2 linked regions of the Homo sapiens genome follow. The protein of the gene in region 2 purifies or fractionates together with the protein of the main gene of each other region. This does not show direct contact. Each region holds a gene or a part of one and is shown on either strand. Other genes may lie near its edges.

Region 1 (15,644 bases), on a different chromosome or scaffold from region 2:
ACAGTTTTACTGAGTTGACTGTTATTCTTAGGCTGCAACATTCATTCATCATTTCAACTCAGCTATAAAGAAATATATAACAAGAAAATTGGCAAGCTCTATGAAGAAAAATAAACCAGAATTTAAGGTATGTAACGTGATGATAATAGATGAGATGGGGTCAAGATCTTTTAGATAAGATGGCTAGGACAGACCCTAGAGATGTAACATTTGGGGAGACAACCTAATTTAAAAAGTGAGCAATGCAAATCTCTGGAGAAGTAGCTGTGATCCTAGCAATTTGATGTCAACCTTAAGAAAAAGAAAAAAATAATAATAAAGGCCACTGGCCGGGTGCGGTGGCTCACGCCTGTGATCCCAACACTTTGGGAGGCCAAGGCAGGACTGCCTCAGCCTAGGAGTTTGAGACCAGCCTGGGCAACATGGTGAAACCCTATCCCTATCAAAAGTACAAAAAATTAGCCAGGCATGGTGACGTGCATGCCTGTGGTCCCAGCAACTTGGGAGGCTAAGGTGGGAGGATTGCTTGAGTCTGGGGGCACCTATACTCCAGCAGCCTGGGTGACAATGTGAGACCCTGTCTCAAAAAAAAAACAAAAAACAAAAAACGATGTTTGCCTGTAGTAAGGACTTTACACAAACTCTTATTAGTCAAAGTTTGAAATACCAACTCTCCATCCCTGGTGATGTCCTAAAATGTTCTTCCCTTCATCACTTTCTTGGGTTGCCTTCTCCTTGAATCCCACTGCAACCCAAGCTTAGTAGAATGTTTAATAATTAAACATCAGTGTTAGGCACTCTTCTAGGTGCTAGAGGGACAGTGATAACTAGAACTTGATTCTGCCCTCAAAGCATTAGTGGATTTAAGCAGAACATTTGTCCCTTTCCATTTTCAAATATTAATTTTGCATATACCAGATCAAGTCTTTAGTATAATCACTTCCAGATCTTTAACTCCAAACTTCATCTCTTTATTCTCTTTCTGAAGCTCTTGTATTCTTAAATGCTTGCTACATGTGCTGCCAGAACTTAAAATTCAGATTATCCAAAATTTACTTCATTAGTTTCTCTCTTCAACCCATGCTCCCAATTTCCATGAATGATAGCAAAGTCTGACAATCAGTGGTTCTTCCTTTCTCCCTCAGGAACAGTTTACTTTCTTGACTTAGCGTTCAGGATCTTCCACAGTCCACAATGTCTGTTACTCATGTCTGGTCACTGAACATTTTCATATGCTGACTATGAGGACAGACAAGCATGAAAAGTACTGGAAGCAAGGGAAGAAGAGAAAGTTTAGTATTGCTGATCATAATGTGTGATGTTGGATGGGAAAGGAGACGACATTGAAGCAAGCAGCAGGGCAGGTCTTAGAGTTGTCTATCTTGTATACCCAACTAAAACGTCAAACTTTATTTTTTTTATTTCTTCTCACAGAACCAATTCGGTAAGAAAGGAGTTAGAACATTCAGTGTGTTACAGGGAATGACTAAAGCAGTATCTTATTTTTACCTACAGCAGCTACGTTAAACTATTTGAATAAATAAATGAATTGGAAGGGGTCGGTAGCAAAAATATTACATATTCAGAGTCATAAACACATTTTTTTTTCTTGAGATGGAGTCTCGCCTTGTCACCCAGGCTGGAGTGCAATGGCGTGATCTTGGCTCACTGCAACTGCTGCCTCCCAGGTTCAAGCGATTTTCCTGTCTCAACCTCCCAAGTAGCTGGGACTATAGGCATATGCCACCATGCCCGGCTAATTTTTGTATTTTTGGTAGAGACGGGGTTTCCCCATGTTGGCCAGGCTGGTCTCGAACTCCTGACATCAGGTGGTCCACCTGCCTCGGCCTCCCAAAGTGCTGGGATTACAGGCGTGAGCCACTGCACCCAACCCAGAGTCACATATTAAATTGCTCACATTTACAATGTAGAAGATGGATTTAAATAGGGAGAGGTAAGGCTGAAGGTTGGGAGACCATAGAGGCCATTAAAAAGTCCAGACAAGGGGCTGGGCGCGGTAGCTCACGCCTGTAATCACAGCACTTTGGGAGGCCAAGGCGGGAGGATCACCTGAGGTCAGGAGTTCGAGACCAGCCTGGCCAACATGGTGAAACCCCGTCTCTACTAAAAATTACAAAAATTAGCCGGGATGGTGGCCCACGCCTGTAATCCCAACTACTCGGGACGCTGAGGCAGGAGAATTGCTTGAGCCCAGGAGGTGGAGGTTGCAGTGAGCCAAGATTGTGTCATTGCACTCCAGCCTGGCCGACAGGGCGAGACTCTGTCTCACAAAAAAAAAAAAAAGTCCAGACAAGGATACGGAGTGCTTGCTTTGGCAGCACACATACTAAAATCAGAAGGCCACAGAGATGAGCATGGCCCTTGCACACGGATGACATGAAAATTCATGAAGTATTCCATATTTTTAAATGTATTGTCCTTTTTTTTTTTTTTTGTGAGACACAGTCTTGCACTGTTGTCCAGGATGCAGTGTAGTGGCACAAACACAGCTCATTGCAGTCTCAATCCTCCCACCCCAGCCTCCTGAGTACCTGGGACTACAGGTGATGCCACCATGCCCCAGCTAATTTTTTAATATTTTTTTTGTAGACACAAGGTCTCACTATGTTGCCAGACCTGGTCTTAAAAAATCCTCTGGCCTTAGCCTCCCAAGTGCTGGGATTATAGGTGGGAACCACTGGGCCCAGCCTGTACTGTCTATTTCAAAATAGATAGGAGAGGACTGTTGCATGTTCTCACCACAAAGTGATCAACATGTGAGATGACGGAGACACTAATTAACTTGATTTGATCATTACACGAAGTATACGTATATCAAAACATCACACTATATCCCAGAAATATGTACATTATGTGTCAACTAAAAATCAAACTAAAAGAGATAATGGAGTTCCCAACAGTAGGAATGGAGAAAAAAGGCGAATTTGAGAAATATTTTTCTTTTCTTTCTTTTTGCTTCTATTCACTGTGAATACTGTATTATAGTTTGACTATTTATTTATTTATTTGCACAGAGTCTTAACTCTGTGGCCCAGGCTGGAGTGCAGTGGTGCAACTGCCACTCACTGCAGGCTCAATCTCCCAGGCTCAAGCAATCGTGCCACCTCAGCCTTCCAAGTAGCTGAAAATACAGGTGCACACAACCACGCCTGGCCAATTAAAAAAAAAAATTTTTTTTTAATTTTTAGTAGAGATGAGGTCTTGCTATGTTGCTCAGGCTGTTCCTGAACTCCTGAGCTCAAGTGATTCTCTTGCCTCAACCTCCCAGTCTCTTGTACCTGGGATTACAAATGTGAGCCACCACACCTGGCCAGAGAAATATTCAGCAAGTTAACATTAGTGAAGCTTGGCACTGACTCGATTTGGAAGCACGGGGGAGGAACAGGTGCAGAAGGAATCCAGGCTGATTCTTGCATTGGATGACCAAGCGGAGTTGAGTCAGAAAGTAAATCCAGGCCAGGTGCGGTGGTTCACGCCTGTAATCCCAGCACTTTGGGAGGCCTAGGCAGGCAGATCACCTGAGGCCAGGAGTTTGAGACCAGCCTGGCCAACCTGGCGAAAACCCGTCTCTACTAAAAACAGAAAAATTAGCCGGGCGTGATGGGACACGCCTGTAATCCCAGCTACTTGGGAGGCTAAGACAGGAGAATTGCTTGAACCTGGGAGGTGAAGGCTGCAGTGAGCCGACAGTGCACCACTGCACTCCAGCCTGAGCAACAGAGGGAGACTCTGCCTCAAAAAAACAAACAAACAAAAAAAAAACTAAAAACAAAAAAAAGTAAATCCAAAAATCAAGAAAATGGGGGGAAAAAAAACAAAGAAATGCCCTTAGTTTTACTCATATAAGCCTGAGGGACTTCTGGGGATGGCCAAGGACAAACATTTGTATACATCAGTCTACAACTCAGAGGGAAAGTACGGGATTCTGTTATCAGACTATAGGAAGTAGCAGCACTTAAAAACTAGGAAAGTAGGCCGGGCGTGATGGCTCCTGCCCCTTATCCCAGCACCTTGGGAGGCTGAGGTGGATGGATCATCTGAGGCCAGGAGTTCAAGACCAGCCTGGCCAACATGGTGAAACCCGTCTCTACTTAAAAAAATACAAAAATTAGCCAGGCATGGTGGCGCAAACCTGTAGTCTCAGCTACTAGGGAGGCTAAGGCACGAGAATCAATTGAACCCGGGAGGTGGAGGTTGCAGTGAGCCGTGATCACACCACTGCACTCCAGCATGGATGATAGAGCAAGACTCCGTCTCAAACAAACAAAAACCCAAACTAGGAAACTGGATGAATTATACAGATGAATTATACAGAATGATAGCAGATGAATTATACAGAATGATGGCAAGCAGCAGGCCAAGCACCCTATAATAGAGAAAAATGAAAAAAGAATGGGAAGAAAACCAGAAAAGTAGCCAAATGACAGCTAATATTAACTGATCATTACCATTCTCGGTTACCATGTCAGCCTCTGCACATGAATTGCTTCAATGAACCCTCCCAATAATCCTAAAAGATAGTCCTTTTATTACAGTGTTTTAGATGAGGAAGCTGAGACAGGTATTGCATGATAGCTGAGAATGGGTATAGAGTCAGACTGCCAGAGCACAAATCCTGGCTTTACTAACTATATGTTTCAGTTTCCTGTAGTTTAAACAGGAGATAGCAATATCAATGCCATAGGGTTTCATAAATTAATTACCATGTTAAATGGTGCCTGGCACAAAAGCAGCACTCATATACCACTAGGTGGGAGTATAGAGAATGTTAAAGAAATGCAATATGTAATGTCAAATGATAACCTGCAGAATAAACTAGTATTTGACAGGATTTCCACCCCTTTTATGTATAAATATGTGTGTAAGTATATATATATATTTATGTATGTATATAGACTAGATGCTTCTAAGGTGAATTCACAATACAAATGTTCCCCTAAAAATGCTACCCTAATTCATCAAGCAGAAAGACACTTTAACATATTAATGATTTTTAAAATTTCCACTGTTAATTGGTAGATGAAATAAGATTAAGCCAGAATGAGGCTTTTCCTGACACTGGATAGTTTATAATCATGTAAACATATCTCTCAGACAATAAAGCAATATTTTATAAATATTTATTGACAGCTACAGACTTTGTTTTGCATTTTGAGGTTGATTCACTATTTAATTTTCCAAATTAGGAGACCATTCAAAAGGACTACGTTGAAATAGAAATCAAAACACATCCCTAAATGTAAATATTTATAGCTTGTATAATATTCATGTAAAGATATAGCAGAACTAGTTCTTTTAACCACTTTGGTGTTATAATGAGGGAAGATCAGAATCTACTAAGTTCTAAACTCATTTCCTCTCTACTGAACACAGTAAAAGACCCTGATATCAGAGAAATAACAAACAAAAGGCATAATTATTGAACTATCCAGAAAAAAACGGATATTAAGAGGATAAAAAGTTCACATGTGCTTTGTAGATCAGATGTGAAGGATAAAAAGAACTGAAAATCATGTACGGTCAGTTGCAACTTCACTAAACATAAGAATTAGACTTAAGCTATCAAACCGTTTTAAAAGTTTCCTTCCTGGCCCTTGGCATTGATTACTACTGCCATCTAGCAGGAGGTCCAAAAATTAAAATTACGAGAACTGTAAAAAATCATCAGGACATAATTCCAATCTCCAAATAGAAAGATGTTTACCATATTAATAATTACTTAAATTTCAGGCCGGGCACAGTGGCTCACACCTATAAACCCAACACTTTGGGAGGCCGAGGCAGGTGTATCACTTCAGTCCAGGAGTTCGAGACCAGCTTGGCCAACATGGCGAAACCCTGTCTCTACTAAAAACACAAAAACTGGCCAGGTGTGGTGGCTCACACTTGTAATCCCAGCACTTTGGGAGCCCAAGGCGGGTGGATCACCTGATGTCAGGAGCTCGTTACCAGCCTGACCAACATGGTGAAACCCCTTCTCTACTAAAAATACAAAAATTAGCTGGGCCTGGTGGTGGGTGCCTGTAATCCCAGCTACTCTGAGGGATGAGACAGGGAGAACTACTTGAACCAGGAGGCAGAGGTTGCAGAGAGCCAAGATCGTGCCACTGCACTCCAGCCTGGGCGACAGAGCGAGACTCCCTCTCAAAAAAAAAAAAAGAGAAGTGAAGGGAGAAATATTCAGGGAAATAGATAGCTTAAAGAAAAAACAAGGCTGAGCACAGTGGCTCACGCCTGTAATCCCAACACTTTCGGAGGCTGAGGCAGGCAGATCACCTAAGATCAGGAGTTTGAGACCAGCCTGGTCAATATGGTGAAACCCCATCTCTACTAAAAATACAAAATTAGCCAGGCATGGTGGCACATGCCTATAATCCCAGCTACTTGGGAAGGCTGAGGCAGGAGAATCGCTTGAACCCAGGAGGCGGAGGTTGCGGTGAGCCAAGATCGCACCATTGCACTGCAGTCTGGGCAACAAAAGCGAAACTACATCTCAAAAAAAAAAAAAAAAAATTAGCTGGGCATGGTGGTGCGTGCCTGTAGTCCCAGCTACTTCGAAGGCTGAGGCAGGAGAATCGCTTGAACCTAGAGGCAGAGGTTGCAGTGAGCTGAGATTGTGCCACTACACTCTGTCTCCAAAAAAAAAAAAAATGGATTCACAGCAGAATTCTACCAGACATTCAAAGAATTGGTACCAATCCTTTTGACACTATTCCACAAGATAACAAAGGAACTCTCCCTAATTCATTCTATGAAGCCAGCATCACCCTAATACCAAAACCAGGAAAGGACATAACCAAAAAACAAAACTATAGACCAATATCCTTGATGAACATAAATGCTAAGATCCTTAACAAAATACTAGCTAACTGAATCCAACAACATATCAAGAAGATAATCCTCCATGATCAAGTAGGTTTCATACCAGGAATGCAGGGATGGTTTAACATACACAAGTCAATAAATGTGATGTACCACATAAACAGAATTAACAACAAAAATCACATGATCATCTCAATAGATACAGAAAAAGCATTTGACAAAATCCAGCATCCCTTTATGATTAAAACTCTCAGCAAAATCAGCATATAAGGGACATACCTTAATGTAATAAAAACCATCTATGACAAACCACAGCCAACATAATACTGAATGGGGAAAAGCTGAAAGCATTCCCTCTGAGAACTGGAACAAGACAAGGATGCCCACTCTCACCACTCCTCCTCAATGTACTACTGGAAGTCCTAGCCAGAGGAATTAGACAACAGAAAGAAATAAAGGGCATCCAAATCAATAAAGAGGAAGTCAAACTGTCACTGTTTGCTGAAGACATGGTCAATTACCTTGAAAACTGTAAGGACTCCTCCAGAAAGCTCCTAGAACTGATAAAAGAATCCAGCAAAACTTTTGGATACAAGATTAATGTACACAAATCAGTAGCTCTTCTATACATCAACAGCGACCAAGCAGAGAATCAAATCAAGAACTCAACCCCTTTTACAATAGCTGCAAAAACAAACAAACAAACAAAACTTAGGAATATACCTAACAGGCTGGGTAGTGGCTCAAGCCTATAATCCCAGCACTTTGGAAGGCCGGGGCAGGTGGATCACTTGAGGTCAGGAGTTCGAGACCAGCCTGGCCAACATGGTGAAACCCCATCTCTATCAAAAATACAAAAAAATCAGTCAGGCGTGGTAGTGCACACCTGTAGTCCCAGCTACTTGGGAGGCTCAGGCAGGAGAACTGCTCAAACTCGGGAGGTGGAGGTTGCAGTGAGCCAGAGCAAGGCTCTATCTCAAAAAAGAAAGAAGAAAAAAAGAATATACCTAACAAAGGAGTCAAAAGACCTCTACAAGGAAAACTACAAAACACTGCTGAAAGAAATCATAGACAACACAAATGGAAACACATCCCATGTTCATGGACGGGTAGAATCAGTATTGTGAAAATGACCATGCTGCCAAAAGCAATGTGCAAATTCAATGCAATCCCCATCAAAATACCACGATCATTCTTCACAGAACTAGAAAAAACAATCCTAAAATTCATATGGAACCAAAAAGGAGCCCGCATAGCCAAAGCATGACTAAGCAAAAATAACAAATCTGGAGGCATCACACTAACTGATTTCAAACTATACCATAAGGCCATAGTCACCAAAACAGCATGGTACTGGTATAAAAATAGGCACACAGACCAATGGAACAGAATAGAGAACCCAGAAATAAACCCAAATACTTACAGCCAACTGATCTTCGACAAAGCAAACAAAAACATAAAGTGGGGAAAGGACACCCTTTTCAACAAATGGTGCTGGGATAATTGGCTAGCCACATGGAGGAAAAATGAAACTGGATCCTCATCTCTCACCTTATACAAAAATAAACTCAAGATGGATTAAGGACTTAAACCTAAGACCTGAAACTAACAATTCTAGAAGACAACATTGGAAAAACCCTTCTAGACATTGGCTTAGGCAAGGATTTCATGACCAAGAACCCAAAAGCAAATGCAATAAAAACAAAGATAAATAGCTGGGACATAATTAAACTAAAGAGCTTTTGCACAGCAAAAGGAATTGTCAACAGAGTCAATAGACAACAACAGAGTGGGAGAAAATCTTCACAATCTATACATCTGACAAAGGACTAATATCCAGCATCTACAACGAACTCAAATCAGTAAGAAAAAAAACAAACAAGCCCATCACAATGTGGGCTAAGGACATGAAGAGACAATTCTCAAAAGAAGATATACAAATGGCCAACAAACCTATGAAAAAATGCTCAACATCACTAATGATCAGGGAAATGCAAATCGAAACCACAATGTGATACCACCACACTCCTGCAAGAATGGCCATAAGTGAAGAATAAAAAAACAAGAGATGCTGGCGTGGATGTGGTAAACAGGGAACACTTCCGCACTGCTGGTGGGAATGTAAACTAGTGCAACCACTATGGAAAACAGTGTGGAGATTCCTTAAAGAATTAAAAAGCAGAACTAACATTTGATCCAGCAATCCCACTACTGGGTTATCTACCCAGAGGAAAAGTCATTATTTGAAAAAGATACTTGCACACGCATGTTTATAGCAGCACAATTCACAACTGCATAATCGTGGAACCAATCCAAATGCCCATCAATCAACAAGTGGATAAAGACACTGTGGTGGGTGTGTGTGTGTGTATATATATGTGTGTGTATATATATGTGTATATATATAATGGAATACTACACAGCCATAAAAAGAAATGAATTAACAGCATTTGCCATGACCTGGATGAGACTGGAGACTATTATTCTAAGTGAAGTAACTCAGGAATAGAAAACCAAACATCATATATTCTCACTGATATGTGGGAGCTAAGCTATGAGGACACAAAGGCATAAGAATGATACAATGGACTTTGGGGACTTGGCCGGGGGAGGGGGGGCAAGGGATTAAAAGACTACAAATATGGTGTAGTGTATACTACTCAGGTGATACGTGCACCAAAATCTCACAAATCATCACTAAAGAACTTACTCATATAACCAAATACCACCTGTACCCCAATAACTTACGGAAAAATTTTTTTTTTTTCAAAACAGCCTCGCTCTGTTACCCAGGCTGGAGTGCAGTGGCACGATCTTGGCTCACTGCAACCTCCGCCTCCCAGGTTCAAGTGATCCTCCTGCTTCAGCCCCCCAGTAGCTGGGACTACAGGCACGCACCATCATCCCCGGCTAATTTTTGTATTTTTAGTAGAGACAGGGTTTTGCCATGTTAGCCAGGCTGGTCTCAAACTCCTGACCTCAGGTAATCCACCCGCCTCGGCCTCCCAAAGTGCTGGGATTACAGGCATGAGCCACCGTTCTTGGCCAAAAAGTAAGTTTTAAAAAAAAGTCACTGCCCCCCCAAAAAAGAAAATTACAAGAAGCTACATTAGCTGGGCACTGGGTTGCATGCCCATAGTCCCAGCTAGGAGGCTTACGTGGGAACATCAGTTGAGCCCAAGAGTTTGAGTCCACCATAGGCAACATAGTGAGAACCCTATCTCTAAAAATAAATTTAAAAGTAAAACAATAATGAAACTACAGAATAAACAGTCTTTTCTCTAGAACAGCAATGCTTAAATATAATTCAAAACAGCATCAACCATGAACATATAAAACTGAATGCAAAAGTCACATAAAATTTTAAATTATAAGATTAGAATTCAAAGAAATTTTACTCTTCTAAAGCATTAATTCAGGCTTTGTTTCCAAATATCACAGGAATATTCATTTACCTTTGCTATTAAAGATATTCCAGTGGAAAAATTGGCGAAGCTCCAACCTGTGGTGACTTAGGTTATTTTCACAGTAATAAGAAAGTCTAACTCAGCAACCATTTACTGTGAATTTGTTTTTCTCTTATAGTCCCTGTGAGACTTTATGGGATAGGATGTTTTACTCTTCTTTATACCTTCCTGTGGTAGGCTGAACACTGGCCCTCAAAGATACAAAGGTCTTAATTCCTGGAATCTATGACTGTTTCATTATATGACAAAAGGGACTTTACAAAGTATGTTGAGATGGAGAGAGTATCCTTGTTTATCTGGGGGGGTCCTTAATATAATCACAAATGTCCTCATAAGAGAGGCAGAGGGAGATGTGACTACAGATGAGAAAGTGGTATGATGATAGCATGATGTCCTGTGCAGAAAAGAGCCACAAGCCAAGGAAGACAGGCAGCCACTACAAGCTGAAAAAGGTAAGGAAATGGATTTTCTTCTCACAGCCTCCAGAAGGAATTGGGCCTGCAACACTTTGACTTTAGTCCAGTGAAACTGATTTCATACTTCTGACCTCCAGAACTAAAAGACAATAAATGAGGCTGAGCATGGTGGCTCATGCCAGTAATGCCAGAACTTTGGGAGGCCAAGGTGGGAGGACTGCTTGAGCCCAGGAGTTTGAGACCCACCTGGGCAACATAGCGAGACCTCATCTCTACCAAAAAAAAAAAAAAAAAAAAGGAAGAGGTGACTCTCTTGAGTACATCTGCACTCCCCTTTCTTAAGTGTGTACTTTTCACCAAAGGAAAAAAAAAAAAGAAAGAAACAAAGGCAGAAAGAATAAATGTGTGTTATTCGAAGTCACTAAATCTGTTGTAATTTGTTACAGTAGCTATATGAACAAAATACACCCTTTTGACAGTTTGGCGATAATCTGTACATAATCTGCCCTAAAATATTGAACAGAATTAACATAAAGACCATTCCAGTTCAGATTTATCAAAATTCTCTTGTATTTTCTACCAAGTAAATGAAAATATCTTAAACACATGGAAATCACTGAAAATGTAGTTCTTTAAAGCACATAGGGAAAAAGTAAAAAAGCAGTAGCATCTTCAGTCGTATTTGCAGCTCATAGTGTCAGTTGCAGAAAAAGTAGTCATGACTTTAGTACAAAAGTACAACTCAAAAACTTCACGGGTTTGGCACAGTGGCTCGTGTGTAATCCCTGCCACTTGGGAGGCTGAGGCAGGAGGATCACTTGAGCTCAGAAGTTCGAGGCTGCAGTGAGCTAAGACTGTGCCACCGCACTCCCGTCTGGAAAAACACCCTGTATTTACAAAGTGAGAGAAAAGAACCCAAAAAGTAGTTACATGGGCTTGATCTTACTTTTGCTTTACAATAGCTACAACAATCTAAGGTAAGAATACAAACCAGGTAAGTAACATAGCTGCATTCACAGGAAAGTATTCCTGAATACTGAACAAGGAGATAAGCAGTCCATAGACGTTTCAGAGGATTTCTCACTTAAATGGTACTTGACTGCAAGTTACCACTGTTTTACTCGGCCATAGGTTGCAGTGCAGTCCAGGCTCCACAAGAAAGAATTTGAAAAGCAGAAACAGTCACGTGGCTTTCATCGGTAACATATTTTGTATCTATTAAATTATTTAATCCTCAGAACTCTAAGTAGTCAAGTTTGGTATTTATTTCAATTATACAGGTGAAAAAGCTGATGCTGACTTGTCCAGTCAAAGGTCAGTAACTGGTGCCTACTGCGATGTCTTTCCTCTAGATCATTTTACCTTGGTAACAATCGATTAATTCACTTCTAGGTGTGTTTTATTGACTTTTTTTTTTCTCTTTTTTGAGACGTTGTCTCACTCTGTCGCCCAGGCTGGAGTACAGTAGCACGATCTTGGCTCACTGCAACCTCTGCCTCCCGGGTTCAAGCGATTCTCCTGCCTCAGCCTCCCGAGTAGCTGGGACTACAGGCGCCCGCCACATTTTTGCATTCGTAGTAGAGACGGGGGTTTCACCATGTTGACCAGGCTGGTCTCGAACTCCTGACCTCGTGATCCGCCCGCCTCGGCCTCCCAAAGTGCTGGGATTACTGGCGTGAGCCACCGCGCCCAGGCTTTTATTGACTTTAAATAATTTCAAATTAATAAAGAAAACGGCCGGGCACGGTGGCTCACGCCTGTAATCCCAGCACTTTGGGAGGCAGAGGCGAGTGGATCACCTGAAGTCAGGAGTTCGAGACCGGCCTGACCAGTATGGTGAAATCCCGTCTCTACTAAAAATACAAAAATTAGCCGGGCGTGGTGCCAGGCGCCTATAATCCCGGCTACTCGGGAGGCTGAGGCTGGAGAATCGCTTGAACCCGGGGGGCGGAGGTTGCAGTAAGCCGAGATCGCCCCACTGCACTCCAGCCTGCGCGACAGCCTGAGACTCCATCTCAAAAAAAAAAAAAAAAAAGAAAAAGAAAAAGAAAAACAAAAAAGAAAACAGGAGCAACATTTTACAAATTATACCATCTTTTAATTTTACATCCATGGAAGCTGAATGCCACAATTTGTCAGAGACAAGCTAAAGAAAACACAAGAATGAGTAATGTCTAACACTGCTTCGCGTGAAAATGAGAACACTCACAGTACCTACCTCTTTAGATAGCCATGTGGTTTAAATGATATAATAGACCAGTTGCTGGTATCATACCACATCCCATACTACGGGTCGTCTCTTCCCAAGTGAAAATCTGCTTTCTGGCCTACAAAAGGATTATACTAAACCCTTTTAGTGGTGGGGAGAGTATCCGTGGAGAGGAAAGAGCAGGAGGAAACAGGTCTTTCCCTGAAAATGAGCAAGGGCGTTTGGCTTTTATTGAAAAACGCCCCAGAGGAAGTACTGGGAACTGCACCGGCAACAGCAGCCTGACCCGCAGAAGTTTCTTTGGCCAGGGCCAGCACAGGTTTGACCTGGTGGCTCCGACGGCGGAGCGAGACTGCCAACACGTGCACACTCCGTCCAGACCTCCCACTTCCCTCCGCGCTCCCGCGATAGCTGTCCAGCAACTCTAGCTTTCTAGACTCAACCACGGCGTCGCCGCTCGTCGAGAGGGCTGCCCATCCCGGGGACCCGCCCAGCCTGGCCCAGCAAAATGTACCTTAGTAGCCTCAACCTGTACCGGAGAAAACGCAGGCTGCGCGGCGGCTTAGAGCGGTCAAGTGGAACCCCGCCTCGACCTCTCTGATTGGGTAATGCGCACAAGAAAATCAAGAGGATTGGTCGGCTGCAGAGAGGCGGCCCGTAACGCGACGCGAAAGAAGTGGGGCATAGCGGCCCGGGGAATTCTTGCTAGCTTCCGATTGGACGAAAGCAGAACGCCTGCCCCTTCGTAGACCCAGCGTACGTACAACGCTCACACCACCACGCCGTACGCTGCGTTAGCGGAAGTTTAATGGCCCCATTGGTGGGATGCGTGGCCAATAAAGGGCAAGAATAAGGCGGATTCCGCCTTCCTCGTGGCTGACTGGATGCATCCGCTGGTACTGATTTACGTGAGTTTCAGCATTTAGACGTTCCGAGTTTCCACCGAGCCAGAGTTGGGTAGAGAGTTATTAAGATGACTAGGAGACTAATGCGGGGAGAAATAATTTAGTAGTTAGACTCAGGCCCTGAAACTACCACTCGTGTTCAGAAAGTCTACGTAATACCTTATTGTTTTCACGCGAAGAAACCAGCCCTTCAGGCCGGGCTGAATGTGGTTTAGGGATTCTCTGGCTGTCATTGGGTGAAAAAGCGATCAGTTTGAAGGTAGCTCCGCCTGGGCTCTAGGGAACTCTGGGATTTGTAGTCCGGAACTTTCGAGTCCTGTAGCTTTAAATGTGGTTGTTGCTACTGAGTTCTTTCATGTTGTTAATAACACCCATTGACATTTATTGTGGTTTGTTGGACTTTTTATCCTTTCGTTTATCAGCAGCATTAAAGACAACATTTAAGAAATGTGTAAACACTGCATGTATGTTCGTAAACAATAAATGTTAGTGTTTCCAACAATTTACTGCTGTGCCTAGCTGTATACTATATGTTCATGCTTACTGTACTAAGTAGATACTAAAATTATTTGTTTCTAAAACTTTTGCTGTTACAACAAAACAGTCTGATTTTCATATTAGTGTCCATTTACGATTATTTGAACCCTACATTTAGCAATTATGTGTACTGTGATGGCATAGGTAGCAGCTGCTTACATGAATCAAGTGTTGTTATGACATGAAGCAGAACTGGCTGCTATCTTCACAGGAAAATAGGGCTATGCTTAAAATGTCAAGCAAGACCACCATCAGGAGGAATACACATTGTATATTATTAAAGACTGTATTATAGTGTCTATTTTCAGCCTTTATTAAAACAGTTTTAGGACAGGCTTTTCCTGAGTCTATAGAATCCTGAACTCTTCTGTGAGCTAATTTAGCGGTATTTCATTTTTGTGTCTAGCAAAAGTAAAACCATTAATAAATACCAAAAACTTGCTGAGTAGACTTTTCGCTTTCGAAAAATTTTAATATTTTTTTCCTATTTTACATGTAATACAAACTTTCGACTGTAGAAGAAAAAAACATGATTTCGGATGTATGTAATACTTCTACACTTCTAGATTAAAATTAAGTACACTTTACAGAATTAAAGCTAAGCAAAAACTGCGTTCATTACTGATGCTTGTAATTATTGCATTTTTGTTTAAAATATCGAATTATTTTTGTCATTTTTGTATCTTATTTCTAAATGATTAGAGAAGGTTTCAGGTTGTTTGTAAAGGAAACATTACCGATTTAGCTCTTTGTTTTGTTTTGTTTTGGAGACAGGGTCTCGCTCTGTCATCCAGGCTGGAGTGCACTGGCAGGAGGTGGGATCATGGTTCACTGCAGCCTCGACGTCCTGGGCTCAAGTGAGCCTGCCACCTCAGCCTCCTGAATTGCTGAGACTACTGGCACACGCCACCAAGCCCAGATTTTTTTTTTTTTTTTTTTTTTTTGAGATGGAGTCTCGCTCTGTCGCCCAGGCTGGAGTGCAGTGGCGCGATCTCAGCTCACTACAACCTCCGCCTCCCGGGTTCAAGAGATTCTCCTGCCTCAGCCTCCCAAGTAGCTGGGACTACAGGCACATGCCACCATGCCCGGCTAATCTTTTGTATTTTTAGTAGAGACGGGGTTTCACTGTGTTAGCCAGGATGGTCTCAAACTCCTGAGCTTGTGATCCACCTGCCTCGGCCTCCCAAAGTGCTAGGATTACAGGCGTGAGCCACTGCGCCCGGCCATATTTTTTGTGTAGACAGAGATTCGCTATGTTGCCCAGGCT
Region 2 (15,644 bases):
GGAAACACTTTAGTGGTGTGTTAGATTTCCTAATGCACAGGCTATGGCGCCCATTGTGTGGAAGCTGGGGTTGAAGCGTGAAGGATTTCTGATCTCCATACAGCTGTTTACAGGTCAGAGGCTTGGAACCAAGACCCAGGATCCAGAGGCTTCAGCTGCTCAGGGCGGTTGCCCCCAGGCCCTGAGACTGGCTCAATCCTTCTGTGTCAGTTGCAGTCATGAAGTCCTAATCCTCTCCTCCGAGCCTCATTGTTTTCCATCTATAAAATGGATCAATAGTGGAACCAATCACATGAGTTGTTCTGGGAATTCAACAAATGTGGGGACAGGCACAGAGCTTAGAACAGTGTCTGGCACACAGTAGGCCCCATGTGTTTGCTTTTACTCCAATGATTTTATTACGAGGTAAAGGGCTACCATGGGGCTGGCCCCTAGTAGGTCCCTGATCATGGCAGGTGCTCTTATTATGGTTATTGTTGTTGGCACAGCTGCCTTGCCTGGGGCAGGTCTAGGGGTCAGCTCAGGGTGCACAGTGGGGAACCTCTTGGCTGGAGGAGGACCTCATGAGGTGGTACCCAGGACCCCAAAGGGTCAGAAACACAGCCTCAGGCCTCCTTCCCTGTCTCTGCAGATGGGCCTGACTATCTGCTGCTGAGGGGCAATCCTGATGCCTTCAATGGCATCGTGACGGCTGAGATCGGCTCCCAGGTGGAAATGGAGTGTGTCTCCTATTCTTTCCCAGATCTCAAGTACTGCTGGATCCACAACAGCTCCTTCCTAAACTTCTCATATGCAAAGTTGTATCTCTTGAGTCTGGCCTGGTAGCAGATGGGCACTTACCAATGCACTGTGGAAAACCCCGTGACACAGCTGATCATGTACATGGACGTCAGGATCCAGGCCCCCCGTGAGTGCAGCAGCTCCCGTCCAGGCTCATGCTCTGCACATCTCCCTGCCTCCATGCCCTGCTAGGCAGTGCCCACCCTCAGGAGTGCCACCTCCACCCTGCCATGACATGCTCACAACCTCTGGGTGAAATCTCCCAGTCCTCTCAGGTCTGGGTCCAAAGATGCCTCCTCTATGAATCCTCTGGAGTCCTCAGATCAGAGTCAGGGTGAGTCACAGGGGGATAAGGGGGATAAGAGTGGTGGACATTAGCTGTGCACTTACCATGTGCCCACCACCATTCTAACCTGCTTGACCCTCACTGTCTCTCTATGGAGAAAGTGAATGTGATTAGCCTCACCTCCACTTTACAGGTGAGAAAACTAAGCCCCATGGAGTTTGAGTATTTTATTTAAGGCTTCAGTGCTAACCCACAGAAGAGGTGGGATTCAAGCCCGGGCAGGCCGAACCCACAGCCTGTGGCCTCAACTGTTCCCCTCAGCTCCCTCCAAGATGAGGAATTAGAAAGATGCAGGGATGGGACGGGATTTTGTCATAGCTCCATGACCATGACAAATCTCTACTCCCCACAAATTTCACCAAGCTCTTGGCTTGATTCTTGGGCCTCTAATAACAAAAGATAAACAAGCTGCTCTCCCTGCCCCCAGGGGTAATAATAACTAACCTAATTTCCAGAGTTGATGGCACGTCTTATGGCATGACATAACAGTGTGAAATAAATTATTATTATTAACTCCATCATTGTTGTTACTTACCCCTGGTAATTGCGCCAACAGTGTCAACTCCTTCCTCAGCTTCACCCGGCCTCTTTCCCCCACACAATGGCGTCTGCCTCCTGTGCCCTTGGAAATCTTTAAAAGTATGAGGATGTTGAGGACTCTCAGTGGAGAGGTGAAGACCGCAGACCATCTCCTCTACCTCCTAGGGTCCCACATGGGGAGGGCTTGGGCTTGGACTTGGCAGGAAGTTGGGCCCCTTCACCTCTCTACCCAGGACTCTCCCGTGTTTCTTATGGACCTGAGATGTGACTTCTTCCCTGATTTCTCCCCATAGGGCAAATCAGGCTGCATGTCCTCAGACCCGAGGACAAGACCAGAGGGGCAAGCAGGTGAGGAGAAGGTGATGGAGAAGGGCTGGGGTCTCCATAGGGCCTGTGAGGCTGGAAAGGGTCCAGGGTCCCTCTGGAGGGGACCAGCAAGAGAGGGACCCAGCCCAGTCACACCAAGGTCCGGAGATGGGGGCTCCTGGCGGAGGTCTGCAGACCCAACCAGGGCCCTGGGGATGAAATCATGGGCAGCATGGCCATTGGAAGCTCTATCTGCTGATCAGAGCTATGCAGGCTGGGGCAGGCCATGCGCAGAGCTGGGCTGTAATTTCAGGCGCCTCCTTTCTCAGCTCCTGTGTGTCCAGGTTCTCGGATTCCTTCACCAGAGGCCATGGAGTCAACGGAGATGCTGCAAACTTATGGCTAAGGGGTGCCCAGTCAGTGGTTGCTTCACTCAGTGCTGGGTGCCGGGTGAGAGAAGAGACCTCAGAATCAGGCAGGGATTAAATTCCAGTCCTGCCCTGAGTACCTGAGCGACCTGAACGCAGCCCCCGTGAGGCTCCCGCACCTCGATGCACCATGGAACGATCAAGTCAGCATGATTAGCACATCCATCAGCTCAAATTTTTATCTTTTTTTTTTTTTTTTGGTGACAACATTTAAACTCCTCTCTTTTAGCTATTTTGAATTATTCAGTACATTACTCTGTCATTGGAAACAACACAGATGAACTTAGAGGATGTTATGTTGAGTGAAATAAGCCAGGCACAGAGAGACAAACACGTTACAATCTCACTATATTCGGAATCTAAAGTAGTCATCCTTAGAGAAGTACAGAGGAGAATGGTGGGTACCAGAGGCCAGGGCGGGGAGTGTGGACCGATTGGATGGGGAAAGGGAGAGTTTGGTCATCAGGCATGCATTTTCAGTTAGACAAGAGGAATAAGTTCTGATGTCTTGTTGCACAGCATTGAGGGCTGCTAATTCTACTGGAATCAGCCTCAGACTCCTTTGCTGGAGGGGTCGTGAACCCTCAAACAAGCCCGAGCCTCTGCATTTTCTTACTTGGGGATCTTGATCTCTGAGTACTCATTGTTGGTGGCTTCTTGTCCTGATAGGTCCTGAGGCTCCCCCTTATGAAAGCTGAGGGGTGCATACTGGATCTCTCTTTCCTCCCCTGAGGAGTGGGCAGCCAGGCCATGGTGTCGGGGGTTATCATCTGCCCAGGACTCAGTCAGGTTACCCTGAATGGAGAGAGAGAAGAGAGTCAGAGCAGAGCAGTGGAAATAGGATAAGGCAGGGAGAGTCACAAGTTGTTTGATCGGTTGGTTGGTTCGGATATATTCCTCTGTATAGAATTAAACTTCATGAGTTCCTGCCTCTATCCCACGTTCATTTTATAGAAATCTCCTTCATTTATACTTTCCTGCAATATTTAACACTTATTGAGCAACTTGTTTGGTGTTTATTAATCTTATTAACTTCCCGCAACAACTCCATGAAGAAAGTAGCGTACCCAAACTCCCTGTTATGCCGGGACCCAATCCAGTCCCTTCCTTCTGACCCCAAAGCCTGGAGTCCTGCTGGGGCCCTCTGTGTGTGAAGCCCTGATCCGGGTGCTGGATGGACTGTGGTGGACACAGTAGGTGTTGGCCCTGACCTCCTGAAACTCACTTTTTAATTGAGGGAATTTGGCAAAAATGACTGTCAAACAAACGAATATCTATGTGTGAATTATAAGATGGGCAGGAAGAGGCTAAGTGAGAGAGAATTACAGGGCCTTGATTTGGATGGGGCACCTGCTCTTAGGAAGCTCACAGTTCGGTGGTATGGGGAGGACAACTCAGTCAAAGAAATTATATCCTCTGATAAGAAGTATAACTGCTCCCCAAAATGTCCATACCCTAATCCCCTGAAACCTGTGAATCTGTTACGTTACATTGCTAAAGGGACTTTACAGATGGAGCTAGGTTAAGGATATTGACATGGGGAGGTTATCCTGGATTATTTGGGTGGGCCCAGTGGAATGACAGGAGTCCTTACAAGTGAAAGGAGGAGGGCTTAGAGAGATTGGAAGATGCCAGGCTACTTGCCTTGCAAACAGAGGAAGGGACTTGAGCCAAGGAATGCAGGTGCCTCTAGAAGCCAGAAAGGGTGAGAAATTGCATCCTCCCCTGGAGCCTCCAGAAGGAACCAGCCCTGCCTGCCAATGCCTTGATTTTGGCCCAGTGACACCCATTTTGGGGTTGTGACCTTCAGAACTTTAATCCATGTGTGTTGTTGGAAGCCAGGAAATGCATGGTAATTTGTCACAGCAGCCACAGGAAACTAATACAGACTCACACAGCAGAGAGTGACAGAGGCTGCCTGGGAGGGTCCTCCTTCATCGCAGCCCTTCCCTGCTGCTCCCCTGTGCAGAAGATGCTCCATGGAACTGTCAGTGATTTTGCTTGCCAGATTCTCTCTTGATTACTCAAATTAATATTCACACACATACCAAGTCTAAGCACTGCTACTATCAAGGTCACTGTGACTACCACTTAAGTGGCTGAGTCTAAATGTCCACCTTGCAGTCTTCTCCTTCCTGGACTTTTCAGCAGCAGAGGACCCAGCTGCTCACCTTCCCTACACAGAAGGCCTTCTTGACTCAACTATAGGACATCATGCTTTTCTGGGTCCACCTCACCTTCTTGGCAACCTCTTTGCCAATTGCTTCAGGTCTCCCTGACCTTAAATATCAGAGCAGCCCCGGGTTCTTTTCTTCTTTACCTTTGCCTTGTGATCTTATCCACTGTGTTGGCTTCATGCCATCAATAGGCTAATGACTCCCAAATCTGTACCCCCAGCCCACTCCTTTCTCCTGACTATAGTCTTTGATCCAGTGGTATAATTCAAACCCCCGCGTTCTTGTCCAAAGACACACAAAACTCAACCTATTCAATCTGAACTCCTCCTTTTCTTTCCCAAATCCATTTCTTCTGCAATCTTCTCAGCCTCAATGATTGGCACCTCCATTCTTCCCACTGCTCAGGGCAAAAATCTGGAAGTAATTCTTGCTCCCTTTCTGTGGCTCACATTCTAATTCCAATTCATTAACAAATCCCAGTAGGTTCCACTGCAGAATTCATCTGGGAGACAGTCATGTCTACCACTGCTGCTATCTTGGTTCCAGCCAACACCACCTTCTGCCTGGGATGTTCACCAGCCTCCTGTCTACCTCCTATGCTCTCTCCTTCCCCTGCCACACACACGGTCTCTTCTGCACACAGTGGCCAGAGGAATCCCATGAAAATGAAAGTTGATCATGTTCTTCTGGTCTACAGCTATACCACCCTGAACGGACCCAATCTCGTCTGATCATGTCCTTCTGCTCAAAACTCTCCAAATGCTCACAGTAGCCTGTGCAGTCAGACACAATTCACATAGGCTCAACTCCTCCAAAGTCATTTCCTGCTCTCAGTCCTGCCTCCCTCTGTCTAATCACACAGATGTCCCATGGCTCCTCTCCTTTCCTCTTCCTGTGCCTGGGCCTTGCTTTGCTCCTCCCTCTGCCTGGAAGGCTCTTCAATCACACAATAAATGTCAGATCTGAGCCTCCTTCTGTTCCTACTGAAACTATTCCCAAATACGGAGGAAGACTGACTCTTCCCTAACTCATTCTATGAGGCCAGTATCATCCTGATACCAAAATCTGGCGAAGACACAACAAAAGAAGAAAACTTCGGGCCAATATCCTTGATGAACATTGATGCAAAAATCCTCAACAAAATACTTGCAAACTGAATCCATCAGCACATCAGAAGGTTAATCCAATATGATCAAGTCGGCTTCATGTTGGTTCAACATACACAAATCAATAAATGTGATTCACCACACAAACAGAACTAAAGACAAAAACACATGATTATCTCAATAGATGCAGAAAAGGCTTTTGATAAAATTCAGCATCGCTTCGTGTTAAAAACTCTCAGTAAACTAGGTATTAAAGGAACATATCTCAAAATAATAAGAGCTATCTATGGTGAACGCAGAGCCAACATCATATTGAATATGGAAAAGCTGAAAGCATTCCCCTTGAAAGCCAGCACAAGACAAGGATGCCCTCTCTCACCACTCCTGTTTAACGTAGTATTGGAAATTCTGGCCAGAGCAATCAGGCAAGAGAAAGAAATAAAGAGCATCCAAATAGGAAGAGAGGAATTTAAACTATCCCTCTTTGCAGATGCATGATTCTATATCTAGAAAACCTCGTAGTCCCAGCCCAAAAGCTTCTTAAATGATAAATAACTTCAGCAAAGTTTCAGGATACAAAATCAATATAGAAAAATCACTAGTATTTCTATACATCAGGAACTACCAAGCCAAGAGTCACATTAGGAACACAATCCCATTCACAATTGCCACAAAAAGAATAAAATTTTTAGAAATACAGCTAACCAGGGAGGTGAAAGAACTCTACAATGAGAATTACAAAACACTGCTCAAATAAATCAAAGGTGACACAAATGGAAAAACATACTATGCTCATGGATAAAAAGAATCAAAATCATTAAAATGGCCATACTGCCCAAAGAAATTTATACATTCAATGCTATTTCTATCAAACTACCAATGAGATTCTTCACAGAACTAGAAAAAACAATTTTAAAATTCATATGAAACCAAAAAAGTGCCCAAATAGCCAAGGCAATCCTAAGCAAAAAGAAAACCTGGAGGCATCACGTTACCCAAATTTAAACTATATTACAAGTCTACAGTAACCAAAACAGCATGGTAGTGGTACAAAAACAGACACATAGACCAATGGAACGGAATAGAGAGCCCAGAAATAAAGCCACACACCTACAACAATTTGATCTTCAACAAAGCTGACAAAAAAAAGCAATGGGGAAAGGACTCCTGATTCAATAAATGGTGCTGGGATAACTGTCTAGCCACATGCAGAAGATTGAGTGGGACTGCTTCCTTATACCACATATAAAAATCAACTCGAGATGGGTTAAAAACTTAAATGTAAAACTCAAAACTATAAAAACTCTGGAAGACAATGTAGGCAATATCGTTCTGGATAAACAGGCAAAGATTTCCTGACAAAGATGCCAAAGCAATCACAACAAAAGCAAAAATTGACAAATGGGATCTAATTAAACTTAAGAGCTCCTGCACAGCAAAATAAACCATCAACAGAGTAAACAACCGGAATGGGAGAAAATACTTGCAAACTATGCATTAGGCAAAGGTCTAATATCCAGCATCTATAAGGAACTTAAACAAATTTACAAGAGAAAAACAACCCCATTAAAAAGTGAGCAAAGGACATGAACAGACATTTTTGGCCAACAGACATATGAGAAAAAGCTCATTATCGCTGATCACTAGAGAAACGCAAATCAGAACCACAATGAAATATCATCTCACACCAGTCAGAATGGCTACTTTTAAAAAGTAAAAAAAATCACAGAGGCTGGCAAGGCTGCAGAGAAAAGGGAACACTTATACTGTCGGCAGGAGTGTAAATTAGTTCAACCACTGTGGAAAGCAGTATGGTAATTTCCTGAAGAGCTAAAAGCAGAACTATCATTTGACATAGCAATCACATTACTGGTTTTATACTCAGAGTAATAAAAATCATTCTACCATAAAGACACATACAAGCAAATGTTCATTGTAGTACTATTCACAATAGCAAATATATGAAATTAACCTAAATGCCCATCCATGACAGAATGGATAAAGAAAATATGGTACAAATACACCATGGAATACTGTGCAGCCATAAAAAAGAATGAGATTATGTCTTTTGTGGGAACATGGATGGAGCTGGAGGCCATTATCCTTAGCAAACGAACACAGGAACAGAAAACCAAATACTGCATGTTCTCACTTATCAGTGAGAGCTAAATGATGAGAACTCATGAACACAAAGAAGAGAACAACAGACACTGGGGCCCACTTGAAGGTGGAGGGTGGGAGGAGAGAGAGGAACAGAAAAAAATAACTGTGGGGTACTAGGCTTAGGACCTGGGTGACAAAATAATCTGTACCACAAACCCCTCTGACCAGAGTTTATGTATGTAACAAACCTGCACATGTACCCCCAAACCTAAAATAAGAGTTTTTTTTAAAACTATCACAATTACTGAGATTTTTGGCACCTTCTTAAATTTTGCATGCTAGGCCAGGACCTCACTCATCTCACACTAATTCCAGCCCTGCTAGAGAGGTAGATGTTTAAGAGACGAGAATGTGCAGGGCTGCAGTTATGAAGTTTGGGCTTTTTCTCTAGGTTAGGGCTTGTCAAACTAGAGCCCTTGGGACAAATTCTACCCACAGCTTGTTTTTATAAATAAAGTTTTACTGGCACACAGCCAGCTAATCATTTACACATGGTCTACGGCTGATTTCCTGCTACATCAGTAGAGTTGAGGAGCTGCAATGAGACTGTGTAGGCCAGAAAGCCAAAAATATTTCCTATCTGGCCTTTCCAGATAGTATTTTCTGGCTTCTGCTCTAGACAGTGTTGGGGGTGGGAACAGCTGTCCAGATGCAAAGAAACTGATCAGTGATGGCTTCTGAATGATTCCTCCCATCAGGGCAGGGGACACAAGAGGCAGGGAGGTGAGGAAGTCCAAGACAGAGATCCTCAGGCCTCAGCATTGAGAGAGTTTAGGATTGGTGGGGGTGGGAGCAATGCTAGCCATTCTTAGGGAGGAAAAATGGACAAGATTTGGTGAATGTGGAGCTATAGAGAAGAAAGGGAGGACAGAGAGGAGATAACTCCTCCTCCATGCCTGGCCCGAGAGAAAGTAGGTAGGAGGGACTGTCATGCAGTCAGCAAGATGGGGAATCCTGCAGGAGAAGCTGGATGGTGGGAAGGAGGAGGAGATGAGGAGATAATTTTGGCCATGATAAGCAGAGAAATCCTGGAGGCCATCCTGTGGGAGATGTCCCAGCTGGATGCTGGGTGTGGAGACGCCCATATCACTCACCTGAGAGGCTGAGCCCCTGATGGTGTTTGCATCCTTCATGCCTATGTCTCCCACGTCCGCTGCTGGCCTTGCCGATTTCTTCCTGCAGGACCTCACTCTGAGTGAAGAGACCAGAGAGCCTTTCAGTGTGGTCAGATCGGGGTGCAGTGGGCAGACCAACCCCTGCCCTGTATTTCCTGTTGGGGCGCTGGAGGGGTAACTGAGGTGGGAGGAGGGTGGTCCAGTCCCAGAGACCCCAGTGTTGAAAACAGAGGCTCCTGCCTCCTGGGTGGTGGGGCCCAAGGTTCACCACAGATGTGGAGCCCCACAGACAAGGGCGCTCTTGAAATTCTTGCCACGCACCCGTGAGCTCATTCTTGCCCCAAGCTCTTGACCCATGCAGTCCCTTCCAGCTCTGGCTTCAGGGATCCTGCTCCCAGTCCGCCCTCCCCCAGGACTCTCCCTCCCTCCCTAGGGTCAGTGCTCACACAATGAAGATGACACAGAAGGAGAGGAAGACCAGGGCTGTGGCTCCAGCTCCCCCGACCGCCCCCAGCAACACTCCTGATACAGGCCTCATTTTGCCTGAGGATGGATTGGAATTGTTTTGGTGATCCAACTCCAAGAACTGGGTCTCTTCTCCTCCCACTTCCTATAAGGCCCCCAACTTGGGTACCCTAATCCCCCTTCCCAGAAACAAAGGGCAAGAATGGGAGGGAGGAGGAAGGGACAACTCCTGAGGTCACTGAGGCATGAGAGTGGTAAGCACAGCCTGCCTGTATTTGAAATTTTGATTTGTATTCACTGTCAAATTATTTTGCAATAATTTTTAGTTTTTAATAAAGATAATCACATCCAATATTATTTCACTTGCTTGCTGAGTTGTTTTATTTTTTGTTTTTTAGTCGTGTGCCCAGAAGTGAGTGCCTTGCTTGTGTCACCCTAGTCCAGGCACTGGAAAGCAAGGCACGTGTCTCCCCAAACACACCTGTCCAGGCCCCAGCTCCTCCCCTCCAAGACCCACTCCTCCCCTCTTCCTGCCTTACACACCTTTCCTGGCAGGAAGAGGACAGCAGTGCCCTGGGTTGCAGGGAAGTTCCAGGCCTCACAGCTGAGCACAGACCAGAGCTGAGCTCCCCCTTGAAGCTCAGGGGCAGTGGGTGGCCCATGAGGGTGGGGCAGGTGTGTTCTCCTCCTCCAGCCCCTCCCTTACCCACCTGTGTACTCCTGTTGCAGGGAGAGGTTCAGGGAAACGTGCTGGGAACCCAGAGAGTTCTGAGCTCGACAGGTGAATTCCCCTTCATCCCCCAGGTGCACTTGCAGCTCCAGTACCAGAGGGTTTGAGGGCTGTGAGGGGTACAGGGTCAGACTCCTCCAGGTCCAGCTCAGCCTGGCAGGGGGATTGCTGTCAACAGCACAGACCAAGCGCAGAGACTGGCCCTCTAGGACTGAAAGAGATGAGCTGTTCCCCAGAGCTGTGGATGCTGTAGAGAAAAAGTTGGAGGTTCAAAGAGACAAAGTGATTGAAACAGGGAGGAAGGATACAGAATGAGACTGGGGAATGGAACAGAGAGTGATGTAGGCTGGTGCAGGGACATACTTATGTTCACCGCTCACTGTTGGGAATGTAAACTTGCCCACCTTTATTTGAGGACAACTTCACCATATCTTTCAAAATCAGAAAGAACATATGACACTGGTAAAATGTGCTTTTAGGAATTTATCCTATACACTTAGATATTCCTTGTGGGAGTAGATACAACATTATTCATTGCAGTGTTCGTGCCGTAGGATAAAATTAGTGCCATGATCTTCCATTAGGAGATGCCACAAAATCAGAGACTATTCAGACAGTGGAATCACACACATCCCTAGAAGAGGGTGCAAACAGTCTCACTGCTGACATCAAACCACCTCTGAGATCTTCCAGGTGCACAAACCAAGGCTCAGGACAGCCTGGACAGACCCTGGTTGATTCTGGGGACACATTTTACTGTGAATTTAAAATTTTTGCCCACGTGATTATAGCATGTATCCAAAAGAACGTAGCTCAAAACTATTGGGTAAAATAAAAAGACGAGTTAGGTGGCATATTCAGGAGATGGAAGATAAGAGGCCCAAAGGCTGCTCCTGCTATATGTATTTCCCCCTGTCCTGGCTGCAGGGCTGAGGAGGGTGTGTGTGCAAGAGTCTGAGGGGAGTGGGGGGAAGAGGACAGGTGCTCAGGTGGCCACAGAGGCTAAGGATGGGGAGGAGGCCTGGGTTCAACTACAAGGGAGTCTCATATCACCAGGGTGAGTCCAGGATGAGGAGGGACCTGGCCCTGCCCTGAGCTGAAGGCCCTGCTCCCCCAGCCCCAGGGAGGGGGCTCCATCCTACCTGTGCCTTCTCCTTGGAAGACAGTCACAGTCAAGTTCTGAGGAGGGTCTGGGACAGAAAGACATGGAGACCTGCATCACTGTGAGGGCTGGGGACACTGGCCCTGTCTCCCCAGGAGCTGCATAAATGGGGAAGGCGGAGCCAGCGTCCTCCTGATCCCACAACCAGCCCAGATTCTGGGACCCAGCACCCAGTGTCGAGCCCTGACCCCATCCTCTGCCCTCAGGGACGTCCCCCCCTCATCAGGGACCAGGGCGTCCTGGCTCAGCACTCACAGGACACATTGAGTTGGATGGTCCTGTTCGTGGTCACGCCGGCCCCAGGCAAGGTCACCTGACAGGTGAGGCTGGTGCCGTGGTGCTGGGGCTGTGGGATGAGGGTGAGCACTGAGGAGCGGGTGGTGGAGGGGTGCAGGGGGGACACAGAGGTCCCCATCCAGGAGATCATAGGGGGCGTCCCCTGCTCACAGGCCCAGGGCACAGAGCAGGTCAGATTCTGGAAGCAGCCAGACTCCAGGGTACCGGGGATAAGGATGTTGGGCCTGTGGGTCAAGGCTGGTGAAGAGAGGGGGACTCAGGATCAGGACAGAGGATCCATGGTACAGCCCTGGGGGAAGCTCAGGCTCTGGTTCAGCTTCTGCCCTGAGCCCAACTCGCTTCACCCTCAGCCCTCTCCCAGGGCAGGGGCCCCATCCCAGGCTTTCGCTGCCACCCCCATGACCTTTCCCTGTGGTGTCTCCTGGAGCCTGTGCCTTATCTGTCACATTCACAGAGAGCTGCTTCGTTTTGTAATTCCATCTTATCTGTCCTCTCTCCACCTGGAAGTAGTAGTTCCTCAAATCCCCCTTCCTGGCATCTCTGATGCTCAGGGAGCAGTTGTTGGTCTTCAGGTCCCCAAGGAGGTGGAATCGGCCCCGTGTCTCCTGCACTTTTCCATTTGGGATGTTTGTGGCCACTGGATTATTCCATTGTATATTGATCCCTTTCTTAAACCAGCATCCATGGACAGGGCTAGAGTCAGTTCAGTTGTAATAGGGTTAAAGGACACTGCAGGGCACAGAGACGCACTAGCCCTCCTGCACCATCACCAACTCCAGCACCTCCAGCCTGTATCTTGACAGTGGGGCCTGGGACGCTGTGGGGAAATGAGGCTCAGCCCAGCCCCGACTGTCCCTCTCTTCATTTGCCCACAAGAGAGGCAGCAGCATCTCTGAGACAGAGGGTTCCTGGGCTCCTTGTGTGAGCAGAGAAGTGGGAGGGAGAGGAGGGGCAGGGCTGTGGGACCCACAGGGGGCTGGAGAGGGGCTGGAGAGGAGCTGGAGACCTCAACCCAGCACGAAAGAGAAACTACAAACCCACATGCTATAGGAACTGGTTCCCTCTGCACAGAGTGAAGGAAACCCTGAAGCTCAGAGACCCTAGAGACCCACCCAGGGAGGAGAAGAGACCGTGTCCCACCTCCTACCTCCGGGCTTCCCTGGAGCACCAGGGCCTGCACCAGACACGTAGGTCCTGCCCTCCCGGCCTCTGGACCATCGTGGAGGTCCCTCCTGTCTTTTGAGCATCTAAATGTGGATCTCCGAGGACCTCAGGGCATGAGAGATGGAGGGGCCGTGTGCTGAGTCTCCCTGTCCAGGCTCAGGTGCCTCTGCTGCCCTTGGTTTGCGCCAGGAAGTGCTTCCTCCCTGGCCTGGCCTGAGAGAGTCACGGGGTTGTGTAGACCTAAGGCTCTCAACTGGGGAGGACTTAACCCCCCAGGACGTTTAACAATGTGTGGAGATAATTGTTATTGTCTCACTGCATGGGTGGAGTGGGTGCTTCTGGCATCTGGTGGGGAGAGGCCTGGGATGGTGCTAAACCCCGGCCATGCCTAGGACAGGCCCCAAAACAAGGAGTCATAAGGCCCCACATGCCACAATGCCAGCGTCAGAGGCAGGATGAGGATGTCAGGCCTGTGGGTCAGGGCTGGTGAGGGGAGGGGCCTGCAGGATCAGGAGGGGCATCCAAGGTGCGGTCCTGGGGAAGCTCAGGCTCTGGTCCAGCTCCTCTCCTGAGTCCATCACCCCCGGCCCCCTCCCAGGACATGTGTCCCGTCTCAGCCGTGCCCTAAAGCCCTCATCACATTTGCCTTTGGCCTCTCTTGGAGCCCGTGCCTTACCTGTCACGTTCACAGAGAGCTGGTCATATTTATAATTCCATTTTATATTTCCTTTCTCCATACGAAAGAAGTATCTCCCCGCATCACTCATTCTGGCATCTCTGATGCTCAGGGTGCAATTTTTGGTCTGTGGGTCCCCAAGGAGGTGGAATCGGTCCCGAGTTTCCTCCTGCACTGCCCAAGCTGGGTTGTTTGTGGCCACTGGAGCCTTCCAGCTTATATCATTCCCTGCCCGGAACCAGTAGCCATGAACTGGGTCAGAGTCAGTCTGGCTGTCCACTGGGTAGGAGAAGGAGCAGCGCACATGGACACACATGCCCTCTTGCACGGTCACGGAACTCTGCATCGTCAGCGAGTAATCCTTCCGGTTACTCTTCTGTCCTTCCACCCTCTCCCTCCCCCAGAGCAGGGGCAGCAGCAGCAGCAGCAGCATATCTGGGGTTGGAGGTGCCAGGGCCGCGAGGGAACGTCTGTTCCTCAGGGTTCTTCTCTCAGGAACTGCGGGCTCAAGACTTAGAAGAGGCCCTACAGGAAGTCGGTGGTGAGGTCAAAACAGTGACCTCCTTAGAAGAAGAACTTCACACACAGACACTGTCAGGGCTGGGTCAGCCCTGGGAGATCCACCGTCCACCACCCGACATTCACTCCTGGGTCCCTGAGGCCAGAGCGGGAGACAGACTCACCCAGATTCCCACCCCATGCAGGGCCCACCCCACCTCCTGCCTCCCTCTCAATGCCTTTCCCTTTAGGTGATATTTTCTGCAGGGTGAAAATAACTCCCATCTGCCCAGACCCCTGAGTCACAGGCTGTGGATGTCTGCGTAGCTCAGAAGTGGGACTCGGGGCCATGAGAGACAGGGGTGCAGGTGGGGTGAACAGGCAGCCTCTCATCCCTCCCTCAGCAGCCACGAGGTGGGCACCCCCTTTCTGCACAATGAGGTCAACACAGCAGAGCCGGACACTGTCCCCAAGGAGTCACTGTGTGGTGGGGAGACACTGAGTCTCCTGACGTTTGAGCTCCCCATGACAGGAGCTTCAGTGGGGGGCACAGGCAGGGTGGGGTCACTCTCCCCTAGGTCGGGGGTTCAGTCTCAGGAGGACCGAGCAGACGGACATGGGGCTGTGAAGGTGAGGATTGCGCCTGTTGATACACGCCAAGGACACGGAGGGGAGCCCAGCCTGCAGGAGGCCGGGGAAGCTGAGGCTGTGATTGTTGTATTGTGGGGCTTGGTAGACAGGAAAGTCATAAGGGAAAGGATCAATATGAAAAGAGCAGACACTATTCCCATCCTCACAGCTCTCTGAGCACAAGGACATTTCCCTTCACCACTGCTATCTCATGAGGCCTGGTTAGTGCAGAGTGTGAGGGGTCTGCTGGCCCTGGGGCTTTGCTCCTGCAGGAACTGCTCCTAGGGGTTCAGGTGAACAGGAGACGTGGAGCAAAGACACCAGCCCCGGGGCGTCCACCCTCAGTGATGGGCGCGATTTTCTGAGAGAAGAAACACGCACCTGACTTCAACAGAAGATTATTTTAAACTGTGTGACTGGGCTGGGAGGAAGTGGGAAAAATCCTGCAAGCTGCAGCCCCCTTAGATCCAGGCCAGCTTTTCTTGAAACAGTTTTTTTTGAGCGGGGAGAAACACAAGACATGTACATAAAAGTGTCCCCTAAAAACCAACTCAGTGATTCACACAAAATAAGCACCCTTGAAGAACTAGAACACAAAAGAACTGTCAAGTCTGTCCCTTGAAATGAAGAAAGAGATTTTATTAATTCATTCACCCTTACATTCCCCTTTCCTATTGGCCATGCCCCCGCTCCCTCCTGAAGGAGCCCCTAGCCTCACTTTAATGATAATAGTCTTCCTGCTGTTCTATGTAGTTTTATCATCGGCACATGCTGCCTTGAAAATTCTAACTTCACGTAGGTTTTCCTGAAGATGTTGTATACATAGAAAATCCCAGTCTGTTTTCTTCCATACAACTGCATTGATCTGCTCAGCCCACACTGTCCCCTAATTGTCCATAACCTAGAGATCATTTGGCTGTAACGATTGAGAGAGGAAGATGCTGGGTTTGGGCGTCCGAAGCCACTCCCCGCCCTCACCTCCAATCCCTGCATTTGCAGCTAGTATCTCATCCTGCAGACCAATCTGCCTCCTGGGCGCCTCCTCCTTGCCCAGCCACTCT

Evidence for each region.
Region 1: the proteins of SIGLEC7 (region 2) and WDR89 purify together in Homo sapiens (affinity purification with mass spectrometry; 2 studies listed by BioGRID and IntAct, with this or other methods). This does not show direct contact.

The regions. Positions count from the first base shown.
Region 1 is NC_000014.9:63,628,355-63,643,998, forward strand, and holds the start of WDR89 (WD repeat-containing protein 89), read right to left. Parts: upstream 13,518-15,644; 5' UTR 13,450-13,517; exon of another isoform or gene 12,945-13,449; intron 1,268-12,944; exon of another isoform or gene 916-1,267; intron 1-915.
Region 2 is NC_000019.10:51,140,614-51,156,257, reverse strand, and holds SIGLEC7 (sialic acid-binding Ig-like lectin 7 isoform 1 precursor), read right to left. Parts: upstream 13,958-15,644; 5' UTR 13,889-13,957; coding exon 13,456-13,888; intron 11,853-13,455; coding exon 11,574-11,852; intron 11,347-11,573; coding exon 11,299-11,346; intron 10,404-11,298; coding exon 10,137-10,403; intron 9,505-10,136; coding exon 9,408-9,504; intron 9,038-9,407; coding exon 8,941-9,037; intron 3,336-8,940; exon of another isoform or gene 3,196-3,335; coding exon 3,013-3,195; 3' UTR 2,732-3,012; downstream 1-2,731. UniProt on the Homo sapiens protein: Putative adhesion molecule that mediates sialic-acid dependent binding to cells. Preferentially binds to alpha-2,3- and alpha-2,6-linked sialic acid.